2 separate regions of the Homo sapiens genome follow, and region 1 is linked to region 2. Evidence: fine-mapped expression QTL. A gene starts in region 2. The other region holds a variant in brackets. All regions are shown on one strand. Distances are between the middles of the regions. Region 1 overlaps LOC100287290 (a long non-coding RNA gene). Region 2 holds the start of LXN (latexin).

What was found.
Region 1: its variant is fine-mapped to the expression of LXN in fibroblasts (GTEx, PIP 0.96).

What each region holds. Positions count from the first base shown.
Region 1 is chr3:158,762,044-158,778,018 of GRCh38, forward strand. The region is part of intron 4 of LOC100287290 (a long non-coding RNA gene); the gene reads left to right. It also overlaps the pseudogene RPL35AP9. Among named protein-coding and RNA genes, the nearest start is that of MFSD1, 32 kb to the right of the region's middle. RefSeq lists an enhancer at 6,424-13,540. The variant C/T (reference allele first, on the strand shown) is at 9,355.
Region 2 is chr3:158,669,587-158,677,586 of GRCh38, forward strand. It overlaps LXN (latexin), which reads right to left and starts at 3,062. Exons shown (of 6, transcript NM_020169.4): 1 at 2,764-3,062; 2 at 1,371-1,433; 3 at 1-24. The coding sequence starts at 2,892. The region is part of intron 13 of GFM1 (G elongation factor mitochondrial 1); the gene reads left to right. RefSeq lists enhancers at 2,279-2,871, 2,386-2,445, 2,872-3,464, 2,886-2,935, 3,246-3,435.

The sequences.
Region 1 (15,975 bases), 96 kb after region 2:
CAGAGTGGCAGGAGCAGGATGGGGAAGGTGAAGTGGGAAAGTGGGCAGAAGTCAGATACCCCTCTGATGGGAATGTTCCCTTGCCTCCAGTCATATGTTGAAACCTAATCCAAACGAGTATTAAGAGAAGCTCACATGAATGGAATTAGTGCCTATAAAAGGCACCCAGGGAACTCATTTTTCTCTTCTGCCATGTGAGCTTACAGTAAAAAGACTCCTGTATATGAGGAAATGGCCCTCACCAGACACCAAATCTGCCAGTGCCTTGATCTTGGACTTCTCAGCTTCCAGAACTGTGACCAATAATTTTTTTTTTTTTTTTTGGTAGTTACGCAGTCTAAGATACTTTGTTACTGCAGCTCAAATGGACTAAGACAGATACCAAGTTACAAAGACCATATTAGGTATTCGGCCTTTGTTCTAAGAGTGATGTGGGGCCATTCAAATGTTCAGGTAGAGGTGTGTGTGTTCAGACTGTGTCTTCAGAGGCTCACTGACTGCCCTGCTGTCAATTGTGGACAGGCAGAGTGGACGCACAGTACCCTCAGTGAGGAGGGTATGACTGCAACACTTAGCACTCAGTCAGGATGGAGCTCCTCCTCCCCCATGCTGTCCACCACCTCAGAGCACATCAGGTTACGTGATATTTGTAAAAATGACCTTTCTCAGCAACGCAGTGCACTGGACCCATGGTGGGGCCTTGAGGGGCTTCTAAGGTTTCAAAAGTACCCCAGGAGTGTTCAGTATTATAATTATTACTGACTCAAGGGGGGTGAGGCCTCCTAAATCGCAATGACCACATCCTGCTACACCCCTCATATCCTTTTTGAGTTCTCTCCAACCCTAACTCTACTTTTCCTGAGAACATGATCCTCCAGAGCCCAAGGGAGTATGGCCTTTGGCCGTATCTTGAGAAATCTTAATACTTTATAAAATTCAATTCTGTTTCCTCCTACTGACCTGCAGAACTTTTACTTACATCATTTGAGGATTAATTATGAAATTTAGGAAGATGTCCAGGTAAACAGATACGCAGTCTTTCAAAATCTCAATAGTGAGAAGTGAAGTAATTTTTCGCTGGTGGAATTATTAGTGGAGCTATTTTTTTTGTAGTGTTAATTTTTCATCACAAATAGTAGGACACCAACCTTCTGGAAATTCAAGCTAGTTTTAAGGAATTGGAGTAAGATTTAGGACTACATGTATCACTACGTCTTAGATTCAGCAATTAAAACAGTTTATTTTGGGATACATTGTATAAGATAGTACTTTGTTCTTCTCTAATGAAACAGAGATTCTTATTCTATCAAAAGATATCAAATTCATTCTTTTTGCCCTCTTGGAGCCTGGAGAGGCCCATGGGAACAGGGCTTCTGAAACAGCAAACATGTCTGCAGGGCTGTGCCCTGAGGCCACTTTTGCTAGAAGTGACATTTCTGGAACCAGAGGGAGCACACAACTGTTCTTGAAATTGAAGGTGTTTATGCCCGAGATGAAACTGAATTTTATTTGGGAAACAGATGTACTTATGTGTGCAAAGAACAACACAGTGGCCCTGGCAGCAAATCAAACAAAACCAGAGTCATCTGGGGAAAGGTAACTTGTGCCCAAGGAAAGAACAGCGTGGTTTGTGCCAAGTTCCAAAGCCACCCTCCTGCTAAGGCCATTGGGCACAGAATCCATGTGATGCTGTACCACTGGAGGATTCAAATTCATTGAAAAGTAAATAAATACAATTTTAGGTTTGTTAATTTGAAAAAACATGTGGGTATCTAATTTCTATGTGTTGGCAGGGCCAAACAGTGAAACACGGAGCTTCAAGGCGAAGGCAGCTTGTTAGGGTCCCTCCTTCTGACCTGCCCTTGGCAGCACATAGACAACCTGCCTACGAGGTCCTTCCCCCACTGCTGCACTGTCGCAGGGGGTCATTGATAGGTGTCTTATTTTTTATTTATTTTTCAGACAAGGTCTCACTCTGTAGCCCAGGTTGGAGTGCAGCGGCACCATCAGAGTTAGCATGGGATGAACTGTTGGAGAGAGGGCTGGACAATAGGACTGGACTAAGGGATCTTAGTCCTTACTAAGGAATATAGGCTGCAGTGGGCATCTGTTGTGTACCTCAGCAAGAAGCAAGGACCAACTCTTAGTTCTCTGAGGTGAATTTTCGGGAGTGATGGGGGAGATGTTTTGAGGACATCCTGAAACCACACCATAGGTGCCTCTGTAACCAAGTGGAGAGAGGCCCTTGGTTATAGAGTTAGGAGAACATGGATGCCTCTGGTACACAAAAAACCCTGCAGTGGGGGCTTAACTTCCATGCTTGGGAAGGTCCCCACTTGCCTTCCTGGTCTTGAGGGATTCTCAGATGGTGGCCTGCCTGCAAGTGGCTCCTCCATTGTGTTCTGTTAGGAGGGAGGGATGTATTGATGGAGACTGAGTGGAAGTGTTTTTGAAAACTTGTGTTTGGCTAAAAATAAACGATCAGACTTAAATGCTGCTTGGAAATCATTCTTTGTTTTACCAGTCAACTTTCCCTCCTATTCTTCATGGTGGTTACCTTAATATTTATTCTGTACCAACCTCCCAACCTAATTCCTCCACCATCACTTTAAGCAACCACTCATGCCTTTTACCTTTCAGAAAAAATAAAAGCCTCTTCCTGCCACCAAACTTACAAACTGACTAGCTCCACCCCATTCTCCTCTTTTTGTTGTGATGGAAGGAGAGTCCCTCCTCCTCTCCAGGGTGAATCCCTGCACATGCACTCTGTGCTCTTTCTCCTCTAGCTTCTCCCTTTCTATAATCTTCTCTTTCTCTATTTCTCCTGCCCCTTTCTTTCATTTCATTGTTTTAAGCATGCTTAAGTGTTGCCCATCTTCAACCAGCAAACTAAGCAACCAACCAACCACTTCTTACATGGAAAAACAGGCATTCTTATTCCTGGTTAGTAGCATGTAAATTGGTGCAACTTTTTGGAAAGGAAATTGGCAACACCTAATGAAATTTAAATGTCCATGCCCTTTGATCCAGCAACTCCACTTCTACAATGCATTTTAAAAGTGCATTTGCACACACTGAGACATGACTGAGAATGTTCACTGTGGCACTGTAACAAACAGCGCAAATATCCATCAACATGGATTTGGATTGCCATGTAGCTATTAAATAGAATGTGGTTGAACTGGATATTATCTGTGTATTATTCAATGTTCTTCAGAGAAACAGAACCAGTAGAGAGCCTCTCTCTCTCTCTTTCTCTCTCCCTCGCACACACACACACACGCACTCACGCATGCACACACACATCTATCTAAATTATAAATCCTCCACTGGGGAGGTCACTGGAGGACCATCAGCAGAGGAAGGGTCATCTCTCCCAGCTGTGTCAGGAGAAAACCAGATGACTTCCAATGTCCTGTGAGTCTAACTTTTTATATCATTAATATAACATTGTCAATAAAGGTTTAAAGCTTAATTTAGAAAAGAAGCATAGAATGTGCTTTATCATTGAGAAGGCCCTGGTAGTACTGTCCCCCGAATGACCTGAATCTCTCTGGGTTCCTGGCAACAAGCCACTGGGCACAGGGCTTCTACCCTGCCTAAGGAATTTCCATGGCTCACTTCCTCTAGAACCCTGGAAGGGGGACCCTTGATCAGCTGGCAGGAGATTCATCTCCACTAAGAGGCTTCCTTCCCACAAAAGCCTCCAGTCACATCCTTGGTTAGGTTTTGCCGCCTGCTCTCAGTCTCAAAGTCTATAGCAAAAGGCAGAGCTGCAGGGGCTCCTTCTCCTGGAGCACAAGACAGGCTGCATCTGGGGTGCCTGGTTTAAGTATATTTTTCTTGGGTGATGAGTGGCTTGGAAAGGACATGCATCATCTTGCTGCCCTCCTCTGCTAATTTAAGCTGCACAATGCTTGTGGTGTTTGCGTCAGCTCTTAATTTTGACAATGCAAATAACTAGGGCAACACTGTCCAATGGACCTATCTGTGATGTTGGAAATGTTCCATAATATCTGTGCTGCCAAATATGGTAGTCACTAGTCACATGTGGCTATCAAGCATGGGAAAGGTGGCAGGTATGACTGAGGAAGTGAGTTTTAAATTAAATTTAAATTCATTTAAATTTAAGAAAGCACATGCAGCTAGTGGCTGCTGTGTTGGGCAGTGCGGCTCTAGGCCCTTGAACAGAGTTAGCGTGGTCTTGGTTAAGCTCTAGCCTTGGAATGTTAAACTGATCTTCTTGAAATGTGCTCTGATTCTTCAGCTGGAGAGCTAGTATTAACTGTCTGTATTACCTTTAAACCAACCAATTAATCCATCAACTAACCAGTTTACACCCCCTGCCCACCCCCTGACTTTCATGGCTTTCACAGCCATCTCTATGCTGATGCCTTCCAAATCCCAGATTTTCTGCTGAGCTCCAGACCCAAATGCACAACCATGTGATGGACATCTGTCTACACTTGGATGTCCTACAGGTGACTCAGATTCAACCAGCTCAAACAAAATCATTGTCTTCCCACTTTCTCCAAACCTGTTTTTCTTCTACGTGCTCTAGCTCAGGAATGGCACCTCCATTCTCCCACTTGCTTGTACTAGAAACCTGCAGCTTGATCTTGACTTCCCCCCCTCTCTCATCCATCTCATTCATTCAGTTTCCATGATCTATAAATTCTGCCTCCTAAATGATTCTTAAATTCTGCTACTTCTCATCATCTCCACTACCACTCCCCTGGTTTAAATCACTATTTGATATTTCTAAAATGCAAATCTGATCATGTCCCTTCCTTGCTTAAATTACTTCAGTGACTCCCGATTTCTCCCAGGATAAAGACAAACCTTCTAACACGATCCCTATGTGATCTTCCCCTGGCATCTCTTACCTCCCCTTTGGCTACTTCTTCCCCTTGCATTCTCTGTTCTAGGTTTATTCCAAATAAATCACAGCATCTCTCGCCCACCTGCTTTGGCTTAATGATTGCTACTTATCTTTTAGGTGTCAGCATTTAGAGGTTACTTTCTCTGTGGCGATCTGGGCCACATGTTCCTCTCTGTGCCCCCACAGGACCCTGCAATTTCCAGCTCCTCCATGTGACTATAGGTTCCTTGAAAGCAGAGCTTTGTCTGTCTTATTTACCACTGACACATAGTTGGTGTTAAGCCTCCATAACAGAATCCTTAAATGGAGCATGTTTGGGGCAGGGCTTATGGGGATCTTCCTCCTGTGACTTCTTCAGCTGCTTTCTGCACTCATGGAGATTTTCCTACACGCCAAATCTATGCTAGAGGGCCTGCGTGGTTCAAGGAAAATGGCAGCTGGAGCCCTGTCCTCCTGGTGCTGATCTCAAGAAGTACTTCGTTTGGAAAGAGCAAGAAGAGAGGCCTTTCTCCCTACACCTGAACATAGAGCCACTAGGTTAATCAGCATAAGTTCTCAGGGCAGCCTCAAACAAATTGGTGGAGTCTATGTAAGTTCACAGGATGGACAAATGTATGTGAACAGAACACAAAATAGAAATTGCCAACAGTTTCTCATATTGTGGTATGATAAGCTTACAGCCATCAGGTGCAAGGTTTTAATTTTTTATTCTTATTTATTTATTTTGAGACAGAGCCTTGCCCTGTCACCCAGGCTGGAGTGCAGTGGCACGATCTCTGCTCACTGCAACCTCCGCCTCCTGGGTTCAAACGATTCTTCTGCCTCAGCCTCCCAAGTAGCTGGGACTACAGGTGTGCGTTGGGATTACCGGCATAAGCCACCGCACCTGGCCTAATTTTTTATTGTTTAAAAAATATTTTTTGAGGGTCTCCTGTGTGCGTCTGTTCTAGATGCATGTAGTTAGAGCTGAGCACTCCAAAATGCACACAAGCAGCCAAGTCTCCGGAATTAACTGTCCCACAGAATGCAAGAGCCTTTTAAAGACTGTGCTCCTCTTATAGTCATCTGATTTCCCAAAGTCAGAGAGGTTGAAATGCAAAGAGTATGCATTTTGCTAAAAAGGAATATTTATAAAACTGAAAGTGTATTGCACCTCCTGATATTTTTATGAGTAAATAAAAGCAAAGTAGCCAGAGCTAAAGAAATGCCTTTAGTAAAGACTCTACACTTGGAAGTCTGAGCAATTGCAGAGTGAGACCAAGAGTTCTCCTCCATTAGGATACTCCTCCTACAACTAGGAAGGGGCTGCTCTGATATTGACTAATGGGGCTGACATTGGACCTGGTGGTTTCCTGAGCACACAGGAGAGGAGACACAGAATTCCAGCACTAGAAAACACCAAAAAAAGGGGTCCAGATCAGGGAACAGTTTCTCAGTTACTGATGGACAATGGTTTAATCATTATTCCAATGGGAAGAAGTACCCAAGGTTGGTGGTGGGGGCGGGAGTTGGGAAAGTAGGGAATCAATTGACTTCTGCAGTCACTGTGAGTGAGCAGGACAGGCAGCTGGCCAGTGCCCCTCCCACTTCCCTGCCGGCAGAGAAGGAAAGAGAATGGCTGTTTCTCTGCCTTAGAGTTAAAGCACCAAGGGAAACATGAGAATGCTTGCGGGAAGCCGACCACGTTTGCTCTTTGCTGACTTTTGTTAACAGGTGTCAGTTGGTGTGACACTGTCTTCCCTATTCCCATCCTCGGCACGAACACATATGTGGGAAATACTCTAGGATTTGCAGCCAGTGTTGGGAAAGCCTGTCCACTCCACACCAGGCCCACAGTAGCTCCTTCCTCTGCACCCACAACTCGGCTGTCTGTGGTCACTGGTTTAAATTTTCCTTTATTCACATTTTGCCTCCCCAAATGGATTGTAATACTTTTGAAGATGGGGAGTATCCCTGGCACATCAGTGGTGCCCACTTCATACATAACAATACACACAGAGGTCGTTAAAACTCTGAGTGAATCGGATAGAAGTGCTGGAGCCAAACAGTGTAGTACCTAATGTGTGTTAGGCACTCACAATGCATGAAGAATAATGGGCTTGTCTATTGTTCATTCGTTCACTCTTTCATTCATTTGAATGTGTGGGAAATGCTCAGTCCATTGGGTCAGTAGAGAAGCCACTCGCAGTTCTTCGTGTTGGTAAGAAAGGCTCAAGGGATAGACCCTCTGCACTAATACCCCCGCATATCTGCATCTACTTTGTCTCCTTTCTATTTGTTATGACATTTTTGGCTTAAAAAAGAAAAGATGAAACAGAGTTCAAATGAAGTTCATTGTGTGTTTCCTCACAGCTTACACTTGGCAATCTTCTAGGGAGGACTTTGGCTGAACCCAGTGAACCAGGAGGAAAAGAATCACAAACATCTGGAGTTTGTTGACTAGAAAAATTCCTTGTGGTCTGACAGATTACCATTTCCTACCCAGCCATTCTCATCAGAGAAACCAGTCCCATTTTCAACTGGCGCGGCTAGTTGAAAGTTCCACATGTTTCCCCAGGTATCTAAATTATATGCTTCTGTGTTGATTTTTCAGATTAGGCAGAAACTTTGACTTCTTCCTATGAAAGATGAAGATTGAGCACTTTTGTTCCCCTATTCTTCCAATGTAATTATATTGTATTTTTTAATTAAGTAACTACTCAAAGTTAACTGTTGTGATTATTATAAATGTTTTCCCCGGTAAGGCACACAGTGTACACTGATAATACTTCCGTTGTTATACAACTTCTTTTTCTCCCTGGAGTTCAAAATTATCTTGTTTTGATATTTTTCTGTCCCTAATTCTCCTCCAACGCATTGCCAGCAGTGTTAATCTCCTCTTAATAGTTCAAACACATCAGGTAATCAACTGATTTTTTATTTTTAACACATCCCCTCTGGAGCCCATTGGCTTCCTGCTCTGATGTGTCGTTCAGTTCTCCTTAGTTGGATCCCTCTCTCTTGAATCCTTTGTATGCCTTTTTCCTGGTTTGCTCTTTCATTTTGTGGAATATATCCTCCAGTACCTTCCCAGTAAAGCCTGTTTGGATTCTATTGGATTTTTTTTTCCTGTTTTTATATTTTTTTAGAACTGAGAGCTCATTTTTGTTTTATGAGTAGTTTGTTCTTTTTTGTAGATGCAGTTATATTCTTTCTCCGAAGATATTAATTACAGTTTTCCTTAAAGTTTATTCTGCTTTTTGTGCTGTGTTGGCTTTCTCTGAATATGTATATTTGATTATAATCCCCAGTAGTCATTGTTTATAAGTCTTTTCTTTGAGGAGCTCAGTTTCTCCAGAGAAGAAATTTGTAGCCTGTCGCCCCATGTGTCTAAGCTGAGTCACCAGGATTCTCAGATGCAGTGGCGAAAGGCTGCAGGCTGTTCTCGCCATTCAGCATGCTGACTTGGCCCTTATCCCCTTCTCTGGTATGTCTTCTGTAGGATGAGAGAGGTGCCTTGTCTGATGGGAGTGGAGAAGCGATCAAAGGATCAAGCTGTATTTAGTATAGCCTTTTAACCAACACCCCACAACCAGAGAGGTTCCTGGGGCCTCCAATTCTATGCCTACCAGGTGCTCCGGGGCCAGTCTGTTGTCTTCCTGCCTCCTCTCTGCAACCTGTGCCTGGTCTCTAAGTTACTCATCATTTACCACCTGCTTTCCGGTTTCCGACATCGTGTTTACCTCTCTCTCTCCACACTTGCTCCTTTCTCTTTTAGCCTTGTCCTTGAGATGGTTTGTTTATTTGTTTTTTGCCTTTAACAAAATCTCGATACTGTAGTGAATTTTGGGGGTGGGAATATAGGCAAAAGACAATGTTCAGCCCACCATTGTTATGGTTTAAATGTGTCCCTCAAGTTTCATGTGTTGGAAACTTAATCCTCAATGCAGCAGTGTTGACAGGTGGGACCTTTAAGAGGTGATGAGGTCATCAGGACAGTCTTAATGCCATTATCTTGGGAGTGGGTTAGTTACTGTGGGAGTGGGTTCCTGATAAAAGGATGAGTTTGGCCCTGTTTTCTCTCTCTTTCGCTTCCACCAGAAAATGGCATAGCCAGAAGGCCCTCACCAGATTCCAGCACCAGCCTCCAGAACATGAGCCAAATAAATCATCGTTTATAAATTACCCAGTCTCAGGTATTCTGTTTTAGCAACACAAAACAGACAAAAACAACCATGTTTACTTGGCTGGTTGCCCCATCTTTCTTGAATGGAAAAAAAAAAAGCACTTGAAATAGTCTGTGGAAATTCTACCCAGTTTGGAAATGCTGCTGAATTCTCATGTCTCTAGGCCCAGTTCACAACCCTCACTGAGCTGATGCTACCAGGTAAAAAGCGAGCAATTACGGTGTGCTGACCATTTGAGTGAATAAATTAGTCAGGTGTTCACTGGTAGCACTGTTGACTCCTCTGAAAGCTAATGGACTCCGAAAA[C/T]TCAGAAGAGGGGAGAGTACAGCAGCCTTAGTAAACTTGGGAGAAGTGGCTTCCATATCTGATTGCAAATTAGAATCACCTAGGAAGTTTTCAGAATTATAGATTCCTAAGGATGATTCCAGAACTAGTTGAATCCTAAGCTCATGAGCTAGGTCCTGGATAAACTGCATTTTTACCAACAAACTACCCACTTACAGCCTTCTTGTTGTGTGAAAGAATACACCTGTAGTGTTTAAGGCACTGTTAATCATATCTTTTGTTGCTTAGAGCTGAAAGTGTTCCTAACAGATCTGCAGGGCTCATGAGAGTCCTTAGACACTGGAATGGGGAGGGTGTGTTCATTCAGGGGAGTGTGGATATGTAATCAGGGCTTGGCAAACATCTCTGGGAATATGCAACCAGCTGAGGGGCTCCTGGGGCTCCCAAGACTTCCAATGTGGACCTGCTCCTCACCATGTGCTCCTCCCCTCCCTCGGCCCAGCACACCTTACTCTGGTCTCCCTGGAGGCACTGGGATAGGGCTGTCTGTATATCCCTGTCCCTGGTCCACATGTCTCTGTGCTTTGTGCCCCAAGCCTTGCTTTTTTGATTCTTGGATGCTGTTTTAGAGTCACAAATATGAACGTTGACATTTTTGGCTCTTTTCAGTCCCTCTTTACCAACTGTACTCTTGCGTGAGGCTGTTTGGTCACTGTACAAGGAAGTGAGCAAAGAAAAACCCACAGATTAATATCTCAAGATAATATCTTGCCATACATATTGATAACAATCAGCCCATTGTTGCATCCACCCCTACCCTACCTTCAGCAAGATAGCTGGGTTCACTCCCAGAAACTGCTGGAGGCAGATTATGCGGATCCCACAGAGATGGCAGAAAACAGAGAAATCTGGGGAGAGGGCAGTGGCTGGAGCCCAGGGACTAAAGAGTGCAGTGGGGGTTTTTTATGGCCTTGGGGTAGGGAGTGAACTCCAGAGCCAAAGTCCCAAGTCAGGGAGGCAATGGTAGACAGTATAGTCCCAGAGGGGTGTGCTCATGGATGCAGGGGAGGTAAGGGCTGTGGGTGGGGGTTCCAAGCAGCTCTTTTTATTGAAGAAGTCACAAAGGCAGCCCAATTTCAAGGGGAAGGGAAATAGATTCTATCTCTTAATGAGGGAGTAGAAAGTTTCTGGATGAGCATGTGGACTCAGAAACATTTTGTGGCCATTTTTGGAAGATACAATCTACTACAGCAAACATCCCACTAAAAGGCTGGTGCCTTGGGAACAGTAGGATAATCAGACTTTCACATGGCAGTGGGAATTTGTTTCAATTCTAATGGCTAGCTGAAGGGAAGGGGTAATTTTTGACTAGGGTTAGAAGATACTGGTTTGAGAGCATTCGGGGGGCAGGCCAGGCCACTGGGGAGATAACCTAGTTTAAGACTTGGAGTCTGGGGTGCAGGAAAGAGTGAAGAGGAGGGGACGGTTGTAGCACCCTGACATGAGCCTGCTCATCCCTTGGGGTCAGCATTTCTCACCTGCCCCTATTGGTTTCTGCACAGCAAGCCTCGCACCCCCTGTGAACACTCTTCAGAGACTCCTGCGGTGCTTCTCTCTCTTCCTGTTACCCGTCACCCCTCGTTCATTCCTATCCTTCTACCTCTGCACAAGGTGCTCCCTTTAGGGGTCCCACAGTGTCCTGTATATCCCTCTCTTGTTGGGCTTATTAGTCTGAACTGTCACATACTGGTTCTTTGTCCATCACTAGTACAGGGCTGTGAGCTAATTGAGAGTAGGAACTGTGATTTTGACCCCTGTCTTCCAAAATGTCTAGCAAAGTGAGAGGCCTCAGTCATGTTCACTGAATGAATGAATGAATTCTCCAGCACTCATTAGGCCCTGAGACCACTTATCTCTCCCATCAGAGGCCAGTGATATTTCTGAGGCTGAAAATGTTCTCCTCTACTCTTTTCCAGCAGTCAGCTCTCTTGGGCTCACCAAGAACCATGTCAACAGCCAGACTTGCTGCACTGCTGATATATGCAGCTCCCTTATCACAGCCTCCCAGTTCTTGTCTTTCCTTTCTTCTGTTACAGGCTTGTTTTTCACCATCAGGGTGACAAGGTCCCTCAGATAGAAAGTGGCAAGACCACAATTTGCACCCAGGTCCAAAAACCCCTGGTCTCTGCCTTTTATTAGCAGTGTGACTCCCGCGGCCGACTCTTCCCAGCCTGTGTTCTAAACATGCACCCTCACCCACATCAGTTCTTCCCTCTCTTCCTTACATTTTCAATTGCTCTCTCTATTGCTTCCTTCCCCTTAGAATATAATTATGTGCAAATGGCTCCTATTTTAACCCATTTCCACCCATTGACCAAAAGTTCCTTTCTAAATATTGCCTGTTTTGCTTTCACACCCAAGTTTCTTAAAAAGCATCCTGTGTCTCTTTCTTATGAACACTGTGCCCTGCTGTCTTCCTTTTCCTCTTTTCCATGTTTCTGCGATGGGCCAATTACCCCCTGGATGACACATTCTTTCTAGGGGGTTTCATACATTCAAGTTTTCTTGGCTTGAAAATCGCTCATCTTTTCAAGGTAGACTTTTCAGCATTCTGTTCCATTCTGGCAGGTGTTATTTTTATGAATTGGCAGTAGGGGGAGATAATTTTGCTTATATAGGTATGGGTTTTTGGCCTCTCATACTATATATTCACATTCTACCTAAGTGGAGTTGACCTGTACAAGGAAAAGATGTGAAGCTGAGTTACCTGGGAGCTCAAGAAACAGAACATTTAGATGAAACACTTGGTTGCTATTGTGCCAATAACTTTTCTCTTTTCCACTCTCCTGAGCAGCAGTGCTGCGGCTTGAACTCTGTGTCATGCTCTTTGCATCAATGCTGGGCAAAGTCAACTTGCTTTCCCGTAAGTAGTAGAATTATGGGAAAGTAAAAAGATTTCTTTCCACCTACCTCATAAGGGAGTGGCTGAAGGCCAGCTTTAATAGAAATGATGCTTTGTTACTCAATATTAACATTTGCAACATTAGGAAATGCAGTTTGAGTGTCTTTGTTTGTACTCTATTATCCGTTCATTATTGTCATGTTCTTCCTTAAAAGAAGGTGGGGCATCTGCTTGTTGGATTCAGGCAGAGCATGATTTTTAATATGTATATTCTTGGTCTTAAGCCACGAAAGTGTTGTAAATCACCAGCAAACAGCACTAAGTATTATCGTCCTCTAGGCACTGAAAATTTGAAATGAGCTGCTGACCCAGATTCTTTGAAGAGAATACTCAGTCATAAAATATTATTTCCTGTATTTAAAAATTACTTTTTTTCACTTCAAAGAAAATGAAGTGAAAAAAAATTCAGTCAAAGAAAATTACCTGGTATTTGTTACCCAGTTATGTGTTTTGGTTGAAAGTTCTTCTAATTAACTGTGAAGGAGTAATGTGATCCTCCTCCACCTTCTTTTTTTTCCAGTGTATTTGCTTCCCCTTTTCATTTTCTAGGTCATGTAAGAAATCTTAAATTAATTGTACAATTTTTTTCCAAGATGCTCAAAATCCTCTAGTTTTTATCATCTGAGTTCAGACATCCATGCATATGCCAGCAAATATTATTGTTTATAATAAAATTTCCTCCCGTAATCATCAAAGAGATAAATCAGATTTCAAATCCCAACATCAATGCGTTCATTTCTCAGAAATACTTCATGCTCATAAACAACTTCCACTTCTGCCCACCCACATGCATCTCTCCTGTGGCTCTGAAACTGCATGGATGAGGAGTAATCAGGGTCCCTCAAACATGGTGCTGGAAATTTTGCATGAAATGAGTTAAGGAGCACAACAGTATGACAAGAACCAGATGGCATACTTTTCCAAGAGGAAGTCTTGACTCTCCCTGATGTACTTACTGCCAGAGAAAAAGTACTATTTAAACTAAAAATTACTGCTTTTGTCTTCTGAGCATCATTTTTCTGGGGTCTTGTAATATAGCCTTAACACTTTTTTCTTAAGTTTTTGGAGTATCTTGAAAGGCCTATATTGACTTTTTTTGTTTTTGTTTTTGGTTCTTTCTTCAAAAGGTGAGGATGAGTGGGAGACAGTAACACTCAGATTGCTGAAACACACAGTACAATAAAAGAAGATGAAACTGAAATGTCAGGGTAGCTCTGGAGAGGGAAGAAGAGCCTGGGAAAGGAGAAGCAGTGGAGATAAGAGCAGAAGGATGGGGAGGACCCAGGGACTGGTGGTGGGATGAGTATGAGATCAGGGCTGCCAGTAGAAAACCCCCAGGGCTTGGATGGCCAAGGACCTTTTAAGAACAATGATTAGCGGTTTTCAATTTCAGGTTGCTGTTGGTGAAGCATGTCCAGGTTCTTGGCATCTTGAACAAAGAATTGGGCAAAACACACAAACAAAGTAAGGGAAGAGTGAGGCAACAAAAGCAGAGATTTATTGAAAATGAAAGTACTGTCCACAGTGTGGGGGTGGGCCCGAGCATAGGGACACAAGGGTCCTGATACACAATCTTCTTGGGTCCAAATACCTCCTAGAGGTTTCCCACTGGCCACCTGGTGTTCACCCATGTAAATGAAGTGGTGGCCTGCAATCAATCTGGTTGCTTTCCACTCAGAGGCTGAAGTGGTTACAAGGGTCACACTCCTATGCAAACTCCTAAGATTCACTTTAGCATGAGAGGCTAAGGTGAAGTTACAAAGTTGCACTTTTATGCAAAGGAAGACTTGGTCCGCAATCAGTCTGATTGGCTGTGGACAGCAACCAGTCAGAGGCTGAAGTGAAGTTATGAAGTTACACTCCTATGCAAACATCTGATTGGTTGCTTGGCACCAATCAGAGATACTTTCAGTTTCCCATCTGCCCTGTAGAAAAGGTGGGGGTTTGCAAAGGGAGTAGCCTCTGGTCCTTTTGTTACTTAGGCATGGAAAGTTAGGGTTTTCCTTTCAATTTAGTTCTATGAAGTCAATGTGAAACAGCCTTAGGTTCCCTGCCTTCAGACCCTATTCTACCTCAAGGTTGTTCTGTTTGGTGGGTACGCTGTGCTCCCTCTGTGTTATCCCAAAACCTTCATGGAGAGCCTGCCATATCTGGCAAATTTGTACAGGTGGATTTGGGGACTGAAGGCAAAAAAGGACCATGTTCACCTGGGAAAGAAGTGACATGAGGGACAAGAAGCAGGGGCATGAGTGGGACCACAGGCCACAACTACCCCCATGCATCCCAGTACCCTGCAGGGTGGCATTGGGAAGGGCTTTGGGATCTTCCCACACAACTCCGGTGAGGTTTGTGTCTGTGCCCGAGAGAAGCTGCACAAGAGGAACGCAGGAGGCCAGGGCTGGGGAGAGCGGCCTGGGGAAGGGTGGGAAGGCTGCAGGGCAGGCCTGGGGGCTGGAGGGGCAGTTGTGGCTGTTAGGAGGGAGTGTGGATCGTGTCACCTCCTGGGTTCCCTTGAGATATTTGGCGGGCTGGACGTGAGGGGGAAGAATCTGATAAAATACTAAGTTCTTTTGACCAACTAAGTTGGAGCATTACAGGCTGGGGCTGTGTTACAGACTGGAAGTGGGGCCTGATTTGGGTCTCTGGAGCTTCTGAGGTCTGGGACATTTGGTTTGCACAAGCCACTGAATCCATTTTTTATGAGAGACAGAAGCTGGATTAAATGATAGCTATATTTCTTTAATTTTTCCTATTCAATAATTGAAAGATATAAATTTCTAGGTCCTCTGTCTCTCCCAATTTGGCCAACACCGGTAGAGAAGCCACTAACTATTTGGTTAGTTTCATTTTACTTTTAGACTTCTAAAGGTACCTGGCTATTTACATTTAAGGGGACCCATCAAGTGCTAAATTTGTTGACTCTTTAATAAAAGAAAATTTTAAGAAAAGAAAAAGGAACTGATATATTTCACAACTGGTAAATTACAGTAAGCTAAAGTCCCATGACATTCCAGAGTGCCTCAACCACCCACAGCACTCTTAGAGATAATAAGGAAATTTCAGACTAACCAAACTTGTCCTGTGTATTTTCTTCCTGTGGTACATATTAGACTACAAAGCTTGCAGTAGAAGAAGAAAAGACAATCACTGTGTACTGCTGGGTTGTGGGTTCTGAAGCAAACTTGAAATTGAAGGTTAAAGCTGGGCAAATGTAGCAGAATGATCTGTTTCTGGAGAAAGTGATTCTAATGCAGAGATTATGGCCTGAGATTTTGAGAGGGGGCAGTGAGTGTTGTGGGGGCAGGCAATGGCCTGCTACGCAGACAGGATGGAGAGAGATAAATGGTCCTCCTGAAATAGTAGCTTTTGGGGTAGATATTACTGGTGACACAGCAGAACTGAGTGATGTACTCCTTGCTGGGGAGGAAACCAGCATTTTAAAATTCGCTACATATTTATGACCCTTTGGACCATAATCCTGGAGACCTTTGCTGTTCTAAGTGTCTGATGAGGACTCCTGAGCTGCCGGGTTCCAAGATGCAGCTGCCAGATTATGTTTATTTTTTGACAAAAACAGGAGCTGGTGGATCTCAAGTCTGGGACAGGGCCCTGGTGTCCTGCTGACCCTGATTGGAATTCATTTAGAAAAATGCAGATGGGCTGCACCGTTTCTTACTTAA
Region 2 (8,000 bases):
AGCTGTGCAGTTCACCTTAACTTGCTGTTTGAAATTTAGCAAAATATCCTTATATACAGAAGGCTATTCATTATTAATTATCATCTTTGAGATATGATTTAAAGCATAGGCTCCTAATGGTGTTGTTTTAGACTAGACTTCAAAGTGCTTGTTTTCAGAGGTATCTAATTGGGCCTGGCCTATTAAATTCTAGACTTATCATGTGAATACCCTAAAATAGATAACTTACTTTATAAATGATATGGTGTCATAATCTTATGAATTCTAGTCTTAAAACTTTCAGTATATTTCAGTATTAATGGGGTGTCCATTTGCAAGGCCAGATTTTAATCTGACTTTATATACCAACTCAAGACTGGTTACTTTTAAAGTTTTTCCATTACTCTTACTCTTTGCTCCTGAAATAACAAAGTTTTTGAAATGCAGATGCAGCAGTCTGTGTCTGGATATAAAATTAGAAGATTATGGCATTGGGTTATGCTTTGTAAAGATGGCTGTCTAGCAGCTCAGATGCCTTTTAATGAATCTCTTTATGAATTATGCTCAACAGAAAGGCAAGCTTTTTAAAATTTCAAGATGGCTGTGGTACAGATTGCAGTTCCTTTCTTTTAAGTTTGTCTCATTAATAATTTGACAGTTGTGTATAATCTTTAAAATTTCCCTTCCCCATTACTGAAAGATCTTCATCTGAATGGTGGTATCAGCTGGCATTCTATTGCTTCTGAATATCTAAGAGCACGTTCTTTCTCTAAAAACCCAGTGAAAAATAGAATGAGAAAAGCAGACGTTAAGAAGATGATTGATTGGGGAATAAATTACTTCACTCATTTATATTAGGCATAAGTTCAGACTGCCCTAAGAGTATGTAACTTCTTAAGAAATTCATTTGAACTGAAGTGTATAGTCTTTTTTTGTGTAGTTTGGTAGAAATAATTCATATACCTAGGAATACCCAAAGATAGTAAAGAACTGATCCTTGTAAACTTTGCCCATATGGTCAGTGTTTTTCAGAGGCAGGTATTTCACAACAACTTTTTAAAAAGAGGTAAAACTAATCAATCTTACAGATTTGATCAGCAAAGATGATCTGGAATATTTAGAATTAAATTTGTTTAATAAGAACATTTTGGCTGGGCTTGGTAGCTCATGCTTGTAATCCTAGCACTTTGGGAGGCAGAGGCAGGAGGATCACAAAAATTAGCCAGGTGTAGTGGCATGCACCTGTGGTCCCAGCTATTTGGGGAGGCTGAGGTGGGAAGATGGCCTGAGCCCGGGAAGTTGAGGCTGCAGTGAGCCATGTTCTGCCACTGCACTTCAGCCTGGGTGATAGAGTGAGACCCTGTCTCAAAGAAAAAAGAAATTTAACTTACTTTTTGTATAATTTCTTCAACAGCAAATTTAAGGTGATACTTATGTCCTCTTCCTGGAATATCCTAAAATTAAGAAAATGTAGTGGAGACAAGAAAATATTATAACAACATTATACTTGCATTGTTAGAAGTATGCATCTCATTTGGTTGGAGGGGCTGGCTGAAGGGGAATGGTGAAAGCCTTAGGTCTTGAAAAAGGCATGTCACCATGAATGTAACATCTAATTTAGCAAGTCCCCTATCAAGTTTATTTTGGATGAAAACAAAAGAGTAGGATAAAAGCATACAAATTGGGCACAATTCACTTTCAATCATCAAAAGACTTTATTTAACCCCTGGATCTGTGATCTTAAAGTCTCTACATAAGAAAGTTTGAAACAGCGTTTAATTCTAAAGATGACAATATCACCTTTGAAAAGATTTTTTCATAAAGCTCAGTGTACCCTCCAAATAATGTTCAATGAATGTGAATTTCATTTTGAGGCAGATTACTGCAAAGCAATTGGAGACTTAATACAATTAAGTATTGTTTTTACTTATACATTAGTGAAACTGCAAAATGATTAACAAATTATATAAGACTAAGAAATGGTATTTCACTTTTAAATCAAGATACAGATTGAAAATTTATACCTAATTCTGTTATCTGGTACAGTTTCAAAATAAGATCTACTGTGTCACCTCTAAAAGACTGTTAGCAGTTAAAATTCTGTCAGATAAATAAGGGATAATCTCAAATCCAGTAGATTTTCGTAAAATGAAAACAAACCTCGTTAGTGATTGCTGAGGCCTTAAACATTTAATTCAAGCCTTTAGCAGAGGGTGCACATCATTTAAGGCAGTCATGTGGTAGCGGTGTTTGGGTGGCTAAAGGCCAGCGTCAGCCCACAGTGCTTTTATTCTTTGACTTTGATTGTCAGTTTCTCTTGCTGTTTGTTTCCCCCTTCATTTTGGTCAAAGGGTCTGATAAGGATTTGTCTTAAAATGTAGGCAATAGAGTCTTGGAAGATGGGAGCTTTTGTTGGTCCAGATCAGAGTAGCAGATGAGAAACGTGGCAGCCTTAGTAGTCTTTTGAATGGTTTCTACAGTTTACACTTAAGGAAAGTGCTGCCCCTTACCTAGAGCGTGTTCCCGTTTTCTTGTAACTGTGTGCGTAAAAACTTTGTCTCTGCCTTAAGGTGAAAACAGTCCCGGGCTGTCTCCAGAGACTGGAGTATAGACATTCCCCCAGAAACCTTAATATCTCAAGACCAGATACCAGCAGTGTGTCCTAAAACAGAAGGTGGGTAGGGGGTGGCACGGAGTGTCTGCACCCAAAGGCTGAGACCGCGGGTGAGTGGAGGGAGCGCAATCCTGAAGCCTCTGCTGTCCACCACCCCCTGCTAAACTCACCTCCATGCTGGCTTGTTTGACCTTCTGCACCTCAAACACCCTGTGCGGGGTCCCCTGCTGGTAGTTGATGTAGTTCTGTGCCACCAAGGCCGCCCTGGAGGCTGGGTAGTTGGTCGGCGGGATTTCCATTCCGGATGAGCAGTGACTTCAGGGCTTGGGCTACTCTGGCTTAACGGGACCAGTAGCAGAGCGCCGCCCGTCCTGCTTGCTGCTGGGTCCGGTTGCCGAGGCGGAAAAGTCGCAAGCTCCTTCAGTCAGTCTTCTTCCTCAGCTCCTTCCGACTCCGGAAGCTGCTGTTTGGGCCCAGGCTCCCTGCATCCGAGAGCCCTGGGCTGACTGCTTCTGAGGCCCCGCCCCACTACTGCCTGCAGCGGGCTTCCTTACTCCGCCTGCTGGTTCCTACTGGAGGAGAGGCCAGCATGCTTGTCAGGCACCAGCAGGTGGAGGTGTGGGGAGGGAGTCAGTGGGCTAGGTTCGCTGGGATTGCATCTTTCGTTTCATTAACCTTTATAGAAGTGCAGGGTGGGGCTTTCGCTGATATAGGACATCTCTGAAGACTCTAGTTTCCTGTCCATGGGAAAAAAGTCTGGTTGCTTCGCTTGCATACTGGAGCACAACTTCCTTATACACCGCATGCAGCGTCCCTGGCAGGGCAAGGTACACAGTACTCCAGGTAGTGATTCGATTCCTTCATTTCCCTTCCCCTTATGAGAGTCCAGGAAGAGGCTTGCTCATCCTCAGCTTTTTGTGGGTTTGGACCAGTTCTGCCCAAATCAAAGTATGAGAATCTGCAAACTATAGTATTAAATTGGGAGATTATGTAATTTGGATCAGGAGAAATAAAAAAATGCACCTGTACCCCTCTCCTTTACTAATCTTAAAATGATAAGTTTTGATGTAACGCCATGCTTCCAACTTGAGTCATTTTGAATATTTTACTTCAAGGATTAAAATAAACTTAAAAACTGAACTTATACAAAGCACTCTCTCTGGTATGTGGTCTACCTCATTGCAATGGGCCTATAAACCTGACTTTGTAGAAGTACAGGTTTATCCTTGGTGGTCTTAGGTTAATTGGGCTAGGATAACTTGGAGATTCTACCAAAGTTTGGCCAAGGTCTTCGCTGCCTGGATTGAGACCTTTTTTTCTTTTCTTTTCTTTTTTTTTTTTTTTTTTTTGAGATGGAATTTCACTCTTGTTGCCTAGGCTGGAGTGCAATGGTGCTATCTCGGCTCACTGCAACGTCCGCCTCCTGGGTTCAAGCAGTTCTCCTGCCTCAGCCTCCAGAGTAGCTGGGATTACAGGTGCCCACCACAATGCCCGGCTAGTTTTTTGTATTTTTAGTAGAGACGGGTTTAGGCTAGGCTGGTCTCAAACTCCTGACCTCAGGTGATCCACCCACCTTAGCCTCCCAAAGTGCTGGGATTACAGGCATAAGCCACCATGCCTGGCCAGGACCTTTAACTTGGTAGTAATGCACACACCCAAGACTCTTGAGGTGTATCTCTTTCTGATTATGTAGATTCTGCAGTAAATCTGGATTCTGGACTTTGGCCTCAGTTTCATGCTTATTATTGTCTCCTGGGATTTGGGGGTTCTGATTGACTTTGCCTTTAAATACCATCTGTCTGCTTGCCCATCATCTTGTATCAAATGTCAATGAAACTTTTCTCAGTCTTGTCCGTGTATGAGAAATTTGCTTTGCGAGACACTGTCTTTCACACATGACCTTTTTTTTTTTTTTTTTGGAGACAGAGTTTCGCTCTGTTGCCTAGGCTGCAGTGCAGTGGCGTGATCTCGGCTCACTGCAACCTCCACCTCCCAGGTTCAAGCATTTCTCCTGCCTCAGCCTCCCTAGTATCTGGGACTACAGGTGCACTTCACCACACCTGGCTAATTTTTTTGTATTTTAGTAGAGATGGGGTTTCACCATGTTGAGTTCAGGCAATCCTCCCTCCTCTGCCTCCCAAAGTGTTAGGATTACAGGCATGAGCCACCGTGCCTGGCCTCTCCACGTTTCTTAGTTCAGCATTTGTTAAACCCTGACCCACCCATGGCAATATTTTTGCAAATACAGAATATCAGCCAATTTTCGATGGGGTTGTCAGATACGAACTTACACTGTCTCCTGGGATAAATTTACCAAAGAATTGGTGAAATTTGGGGAACTTTGACATGAAGAAGACTGTTCATTTGAGAGACACTTTAGAAGAACACCAGAAATAAAAAAATAAGACTTTCGGAGAACAGTATTTGTCTTATTTGTCTAAGAGCATTTTAAGTAGAAGACTGCCCATATTTTATTTCCATACTTCAAGGTTTTTTATTAATAACATGGCTTATATTTAAGCTTTTTCCTCTCTCCTTGAAAAGAAAAGATAATTAGCGTTTTACAGTGATAATTTCATATTTGTCTAAAACTGGCTGTAGCTCACCTTTTCCTGTTTCTCATTTTCTTTCATTAAAAATTTGAAAGATGATTCATGAGACTAAGTCATTCTGTCATTATATGTGCAGTCCAGGAATATCTAGTCCAAATAAACAGCCAAAAATGTCTAAGAAAAAAATCATTGTGCTTTAAAAAATGTGTAAAAATTAATGTGGTCAAATGAACTTAAATAGCCTTTATTATTATGTTTATAAGGAGCAAGTTTACGGCCGGGAGCAGTGGCTCACGCCTGTAATCCCAGCACTTTGGGAGGCCAACGCAGGTGGGTCACGAGGTCAAGAGTTCAAGACCAGCCTGGCCAATATGGTGAAACCCCGTCTCTACTTAAAATACAAAAATTAGCCGGGCGTGGCGGCGGGCGCCTGTAATCCCAGCTACTCGGGAGGCTGAGGCAGGGAACTGCTTGAACCCAGGAGGCGGAGGTTGCAGTGAGTGGAGATCATGCCACTGCACTCCAGCCTGGGTGACAGAGTGAGACTCCATCTCAAAAAAAAAAAAAAAAAAAAAAAAACAAGTTTTCAAGATAAAAGAGGAGCTCTTAAACATGATTTAATGATTTTTGAATATAAAGTTTATAAATTATATTTTTAAAAATGTATAAAATATTTCTGATTAATAGATGAATTTGGGTGAGCTGTAACAAAATAATATTTATTTAAAGTTGATTATATGTCTTCCAGGTTTTATTACATAATGATAAAATATTCCAAGTTCATATAAAACTGAATTTGATCTTTTCATGATCTAAACTTTCTAAATTTTATATATTGATCAAATGGGCCAAACAAGTTACTGATTCAATCAGTTGTATAAGATTACAAAATATAAAATGGTGTTTAAATAAAATTTTAATACAGATGTCTTTTAAAGGAGTTTTAATCTTATAAAATTATGCTTCTATTATAAAGACCAAATGTGTTAACTAAAATTATAATTTTTCAGATCTCCAGTTAACTTTCAGGCCCTTACATAATGTTCAATTAGTCCTGGGATAATTGGACAATTTCTGACTAATACATGATACAGAGCTTTGGTTACTAAAGAGAGTTTCAGTTTACCTTTATTCTTATACATTATAAAATGATTATGAATTAACACAATGTGCAGATACTTTGGTTGTTATATATGTGTTGTTTTGCCACCTTAAAATTATAGAAGTAATCTAAAATTTGTATTTATAAAAATTTAGCTAACCAGGTGCAGTGGCTCACACCTGTAATCCTAGCACTTTGTGAGGCTGAGGTGGGAAGATCGCTTGGGCCCAGGAGGTTGAGACTAGTCTGAGCAACATGGCGAAGCCCTGTCTGTAAACTACACAAATTAGCCAGATGTGATAGCATGTGCCTGTAGTTCCAGCTACTCGGGAGGCTGAGGTGGGTGGCTCACTTGAGCACAGGGAGGAGGTTGCGATGAGCCGAGATTGCACCAGTGCACTCTAGCTTGGATGAAAGAACCAGACCCTGTCTCAAAAAAAAATTTTAGCTTGACATTTCTTGGTTTTCTGTCTTCTGGTTTTCTCTTTGGGAAAGCAAAAGTTGATTACTTTGGTTAAAAGTGGTGATTAATAAGAATAAGAATATACTTGGTATAATAACTACAGAAAAACATGAAAATAAATATATATGTACACACAAGATATGAATTTTATTAGTTTGTTAGAATGGTAATTTCAATGTGATATATATACTGTTTTATTTAATATACTGATAAAGTGAGTTGTCAGAATATTACATTAAATATGAAATTTAAAATTAAAAACCTTAATTATATTTTCCATTTTTAAACAGACATACCTCATTTTATTCAACTTTATTGTGTTTCACAGATAGTATGTTTTTTACAAATTGAGGGTTTGTGATAACCCCATGTGGAACAAGTCTATCAGCTCCATTTTTCTTTTTCTTTTTTTTTTTTTTTGAGACAGAGTCTCACTCTTATCACCCAGGCTGGAGTGCAGTGGTGCAATCTCAGCTAACTGCAACCTCCGCCTCCCAGGTTCAAGCAATTCTCCTGCCTCAGCTTCCCGAGTAGCTAGGATTACAGGTGCCCGCCACCATGCCCGGCTAATTTTTGTATTTTTAGTAGAGACAGGGTTTCACCGTATTGGCCAGGCTGGTCTCGAACTCCTGACCTCAAGTGATCCACCCGCCTCGGCTTCCCAAAGTGCTGGGATTACAGGCATGAGCCGCCACGCCCGGCCTCACCTCCATTTTTCTAATAGCATATTCTAACTTCACATCTCTGTGTCACATTTTGGTAATTCTTGTAATATTTCAAACTTTTTCATTATTATTATATCTGTTATGGTGATCTGTGATTGGTGATTTCTGATGTTATTGTAATTTATTTTGAGGTACCATGAAACCTGCCCATATAAGATAGCAAACTTCATCCATATAATTGTATATGTTTTGACTGCTCTACCTACCAGTTGTGCTTGCACATTCTCTCTCTCTCTGTCAAAGCTTAATCCAGAGGAAGGCTCTAACTCTGTTCAATTTTATGAAGGCTGAGAGAGGTGAGAAAGTTGCAGAAGAAAAGTTTGAAGCTAGCAGATGTTGGTTCATGAGGTTTAAGGAAAGAAGCCATTTCTAACGTAAAAGTGAAAGGTGAAGCAGCAAGTGCTGATGTGGAAGCTGCAGCAATGATCAGTGGTCTCCTAAGATCGTTGATGATGTTGGCTACACAGAACAACAGATTTTCTTTTTTCTTTTTTTTTGAAATGGAGTTTCACTCTGTCGTCCAGGCTGGAGTGCAGTGGCACGATCTCGGCTCACTACAGTGAGC